2 separate regions of the Homo sapiens genome follow, and region 2 is linked to region 1. A link means that fine-mapping ties the variant in region 1 to the expression of a gene that starts in the linked region. Tissue or cell type: sigmoid colon. Region 1 holds a variant in brackets; the other region holds the start of a gene. All regions are shown on one strand. Distances are between the middles of the regions.

Evidence for each region. PIP is the estimated chance that this variant, and not a neighbour inherited with it, causes the effect.
Region 2: it holds the start of LINC00842, and the variant in region 1 is fine-mapped to the expression of LINC00842 in sigmoid colon (GTEx, PIP above 0.99).

Annotation. Positions count from the first base shown.
Region 1 is chr10:46,988,596-46,991,282 of GRCh38, forward strand. All of the region lies in intron 9 of PTPN20 (protein tyrosine phosphatase non-receptor type 20), which reads left to right. Among named protein-coding and RNA genes, the nearest start is that of PTPN20, 79 kb to the left of the region's middle. The variant G/A (reference allele first, on the strand shown) is at 1,540.
Region 2 is chr10:46,396,732-46,399,418 of GRCh38, forward strand. It overlaps LINC00842 (long intergenic non-protein coding RNA 842), which reads left to right and starts at 1,631. Exons shown (of 4, transcript NR_033957.2): 1 at 1,631-2,062. RefSeq lists an enhancer at 1-506.

The DNA.
Region 1 (2,687 bases):
AATGAGAACATGCAGTATTTATCTTTCTGTGCCTGCCTTGTTTTGCTTAATGCAATGTTCTCCAGACTTGTCCATATTGCTGTGAATGACAGGATGTCACTCTTTTTTTATGGCTGCATAGTATTCCATTTTCCAATTCATTAGCATAGGATTATTTCCATTTGTTTCTGTCCTCTTCGTTTCTTTCATCAGTGTTTTATAGTTTTCCTCATAGAAGTCTTTTACTTTTTTGGTTAAATTTATCCTAGGTGTTTTTTTTTTTTAATAGCTATTGTAAATAAGATCACCTTCTTTATTTCCTTTCAGCTAGTTTGTTATTGGAGTCTAGAAATATCACTGATTTTTGTATGTCGACTTTGTATCCTGCAACTGTACTGAATTAGTTTATTAGTTCTTAGAGTGTTTTGGTAGAGTCATTAGTTTTGGGGGATATATATATATATACATATATATATGAATATATGAATATATAGTCATGTTACATGCAAAGAAGGACAATTTAATTTCCTTTTTTTCCAATTTGGATGCCCCTTATTTCTTTCTCTTGACTAATTGCAATGGCTAGGACATCCAACATTATACTGAATAAGAGTGGTAAAAGTGGGCATTCTTGACCTGTTTTCCAGTTCTTAGAAGAAAGGCTTTGAGCTTTTCCCCATTCAGTATGATCTTAGCTGTGTGTTTGTCATATATCGTCTTTATTGTGTTTAGATATGTTCCTTCTATGCCTCATTTGTTTAGAGTTTTTTTTTTTTATCATGAAAGCATGTTGAATTTTATCAAATGCTTCTTCCACATCTATTAAGATTCTCATATGGTTTTTGTCATTCATTCTGTTGATATATCACATTTATTGATTTGCATATGTCAAATTATACTTGCATTCTGGGGATAAATCCCACTTGGTCATAGTGCATTATCTTTTTGATGTGTTGTTACATTTGTTTTGCTAGTATTTTGTTGAGGATTTTTTTTTTTTTTTGCCTCTATGTTCATCGGGGATATTGGCTTGAACTTTTTTTTCATTGTGTCTCTGTCAGATTTTGGTATCAAGTTGATAATGGCTTCATAGAATGAGTTAGAGAGGAGTCCCTCCTCCTTGAATTTTTTGGAATGGTTTCAGTAGGATTGGTAGCAGTTCTTCTTTGTACATGTGGTAGACTTTAGCTGTGAATCCGTCTGGTCCAGGGCTTTTTTTGGTTGGTAGGATTTTTATTACTGATTCACTTTTGGAATTCATTATTGGTCTGTTCAGGTTTTCTTGAACAGGAATTTCTTCCTGGTTGAATCTTGGGAGTTTTCAGGAATTTACTCATTTCCTCTAGATTTTCTATTTTTCGTGTGCATAGATATTTATAATAATCTCTGAAGATCTTTTATATTTCTGTGGGATTAGTTGTAATGTCATCTTTGTCATTTCTGATTGGGCTTAGATTTTCCTTTTTTTGTTGTTTAGCTAGCAGTCTATCAATTTTGTTTATTCTTTCAAAAAACAGACCAGGCGCGGTGGCTCATGCCTGTGATCCCAGCACTTTGGGA[G/A]GCCGAGGCGGGTGGATCACCTGAGGTCAGGAGTTCGAGACCAGCCTGATCAATATGGCGAAACCCCGTCTCTACTAAAAATACAAAAATTAGCCAGGTGTGATGGCATGCACCTGCAGTCCCAGCTACTTGGGAAGCTGAGACAGGAGAATTGCTTGAACCCAAGAGGCAGAGGTTGCAGTGAGCTGAGATTGTGTCACTGCACTCCAGCCTGGGAGACAGAGCGAGACTCCATCTCAAAAAAAAAAAAATTGTTTGTTGATCTTTCGTATGCATTTTTCCATCTTAATTTCATTCAGTTCTGCTCTGATTTTGGTTATTTGTTTTCTTCTGCTAGTTTGGGATTGATTCGTTCTTTTTTTCTAGTTTCTCTAGGTGAGACATCAGGTTGTTCATTTAAGATCTTCCTAACTTCTTTGATGTAGGCATTTAGCACTATAAACTATACTCTTAGCACTGCTTTAGCTGCATCCCAAAGATTTTGATTTGTTTTGTCTCTGTTTTCATTAATTTCAAAGAATTTTTTTGATTTCTGAATTCATTTGTTTACCCAAAAGTCATTTAGGAGCAAGTTGTTTAATTTCCAAGTAATTGTGTAGTTTTGGGAGATCTTCTTGGTAGTAATTTCTGTTTTTATTGTACTGTGGTCTGAGAGTATGCTTGAGATGATTTCAGTGTTTTTAATCTTTTTCAGATTTGCTTTATGGCTGAGCATATAGTCGATCTTAGAGTATATTCCATGTGCAGATAAGAAGACTGTATATCCTATGGTTTTGGAGTGGACTAGTCTGTAGATATTTATTGAGTCCAATTGGTCAAGTGTTGAATTTAAGACCAGAATTTCTTTATTAATTAATTTTTCGCTTTGATGATCTCTCTAATCCTGCCAGTTGGGTGTTGAAGGCTCCCAATATTATTGTGTGACTAAGTCTTTTCATAGGTCCAGAAGAACTTGTTTTATGAATCCGGGTGCTCCAATGTTAGCTGTGTGTATATTTAAGATAGTTAACTCTTCTTTTTGAATTTTTCCCTTTGTCACTGTGTAATGCCCTACTTTGTCCTTTTAGATCATTGTTGGTTTAAAGTCTGTTTTATCTGATATAAGAATAGTGACCCCTGCTTTCCTTTTGTTTTCCATTTGCATGATA
Region 2 (2,687 bases), 590 kb before region 1:
GACAACCTGAGCAAAATCAGCATTCCCTTGGCAAGGAATAAAGGGGGAATGGATTTGTGGTCAGCAACCCACCGCCAAGCATTCTGCCTGCAACAGGGTGGGGCTGGCCAGGGGAGGCTCCTCAGGGAAGGTGAAAGCTGTGCAGAGTTTTGCAGGATGACTCAGTGCTTATCAGGTAGACAGATAAGGAAGAACATTCCAGGGAGAGGGAGGAATGCTAACAACAGCAGGGGATCTGGTCTGTACTAGACATGCCAAAGGAATGGTGTGTCCATATCAACAGAGGAGGGAGAGACAGAAGAGAAAGAGCTTGTCAGGGCCTGAGTCAGAGCGGGCTCATGCTGTGGGGCTAAGAAGCTCAAATGATTTCCAGAGACAGTGGGGAAGCTTTACAGGGACAGGCAGGGGAAGATCTTAACCCGGCTTTCGTAGGCCTCTGGCTTGAGTATAGAAGGTGAGTCTGGGACAGGGAGCCCAGCGCCGAAGTGTTGCAACACTATAGGGAGACATACAGACCAATTCCCTCCCACCTAACAGCTCTGTGCTTTGGGGTCCTGGGTTAGTTTCCTGGGAGAAGGCTGGCCTTGGCTACCTCTGTCCTTGACCAAGGACATCGTTTTAAATATTTGTGATGTGTCCTAGGCCACTGCATCTCTGTCCCTGTAGCGAAGAGAAGATACTGATTCCTAAGCTCCTACTCTGAGAACACAAATATCTGCAATACCTCGGTAAGCCCTAGGCCTGAGTGTGAGGTTGCAGGCACTTCCATGGCCCCATGCAGGTGTCTAAGTTCCCTCGTGGTATTTGGCCAAGGGGGGCCCTGTGTGATGCCCTAGCGCGGTGACTACCCGTGTTCCTGGCCCATGGGCATCTTCCACGGAATTCTGGGCTTAGCCTGGGGATTCATGCGGGCGCATCTCTGTGATCTGCTCTGGAGCAGGATGTACATCAGGTCTCTCAGACCTGAGTCCCTGGTGCCTGGCGCTCAGCCTTGACTGAAGTGCTCGGCCCACCCTGCTGGGCCAGCCAGCTCCTGCTCAGGGCCACAGCCCTGTAACCACGGCTTCCTCCCCAGGACTCAGGAATTCTCCCACTCCGGAATGCCTTGCTGCTGGGGTGACCAGGTCTTCACTTGTGAAACAGGAGTCAGCCACCTCAGCCCTGCGCCTGGCCTGGTGGAACATGGGTCACCGCCCCAACCTGGGGCAGCCGCCCCATCCCAACGCAGTTGCTGCCGCTCTCCATGCCTCCCTGTGCCCAGCTAACTGGGGGACTTGTCCCCTGGGAAAACCTGGGTACCCAGGCTGCCTTTGGTTTCAGCCCCTACTCCTCTTCCCGGGCTGCCTTTGCTCCCCGGAAGACCCCTTTCCCCGGGCTGTGTTCACATCGGCTGGGAAGGGTCCCTTGCAGACAGATCTTGGACGAGGTCGCGTCCCCCCTCGTGACCAGCAAACTCCTAAAAGCGGCCCTTGCCCCAGAGCCCCTGTAGCCTCCAACCGGCAGTCAGGAGGCAGCGCCGTCTCAGCGCCGCTTAGTGGCGCCAGGCGTGCCTGGAAATCCGCTTTCGCAGCGCCCCCTCGTAGCCGCCTCCGCCCGCAGAAAGGCGTTCCCTGGACAGAGAAGCGGGCGCGCGGGGGCGGGCGCGCGGGGCCTTGCCGGAGAACCTGACTCTCCGCAGCAGCAGTGGAAGCCGGAGTGACGCGTTGTGTTGAACACCAGTTTTCTGGAGCGCTGTGTGTTCTTAACAGCTGAGCAGTCTGTTTCTCCAATCAGGTTTCAAAGCCACTTCAACTGCACTGGCCCCTGTGGGTCACTGCTGCACCGCCCTGACCCATGTGGGTCCCTGAGGAGCGACCTGCCGGGGCCACCTGGCTGGACGAAAAAGACACACCTTGGACTTAAGCCGTGAGAAAAAAACTTCATCAGTAAGAAGAATGAATAAACAGACTAGGTTGAATCCATACAATGGAATGTTAGCAGACAATAAAAAGAAAATGAACTATTGATGTCCCCTACTGCACAGCAGAAGCTCTGAATCGTGTTCCTGAATGAAAGAAGTCAGGTATGAAAGAATAAACATTGTATGATTCCATTTATATGAAAATGAATCTGTGATTTAAAAATCAGACTAGTATTAGGTTGGTGCAAAAGTAATTGCGGTTTTTGCCTTTTTTTTTTTTTTTTAATAGTTGCTTTGGGGTTTATGGATGGAGTGGCATGGTAGAGGTTAGCTGAAGGGGGCATGAAATAACTTTTTGGGGGTGCTAGAGTGTTGTAAATCTTACAGTGGGGGAGGGACAGGAGTGCAGGCATTTGACAAAACACATTGAATTGTGAAATTTAAGATTTTTGAATTTCTTTGTATGTAAATTACCTGCCAATAAAAACATGACGAATAGAGCAGTTATGAGCATTTGTGTGTAGCTTTTTGTGCAAACTTAAATTATAATTTCTCTGATAAAAGCCCAGGAATGTGATTGTTGAGTAATATGGTAAGTGCATGTTTTTTGAGAAACTGTCAATCTATTTTTGGGAGTGGCTGTGTGTATCATGTTATATTCTCACAAGCAAGGGATGAGAAATTTGGTTTCTCTGCATCCTTGCTAGCATTTGGTTTTATCATTATATTTTTATTTCAACTGCTCAAATAAGTGTGCAGTGATTTCTCATGATCTCAATTTGCATTT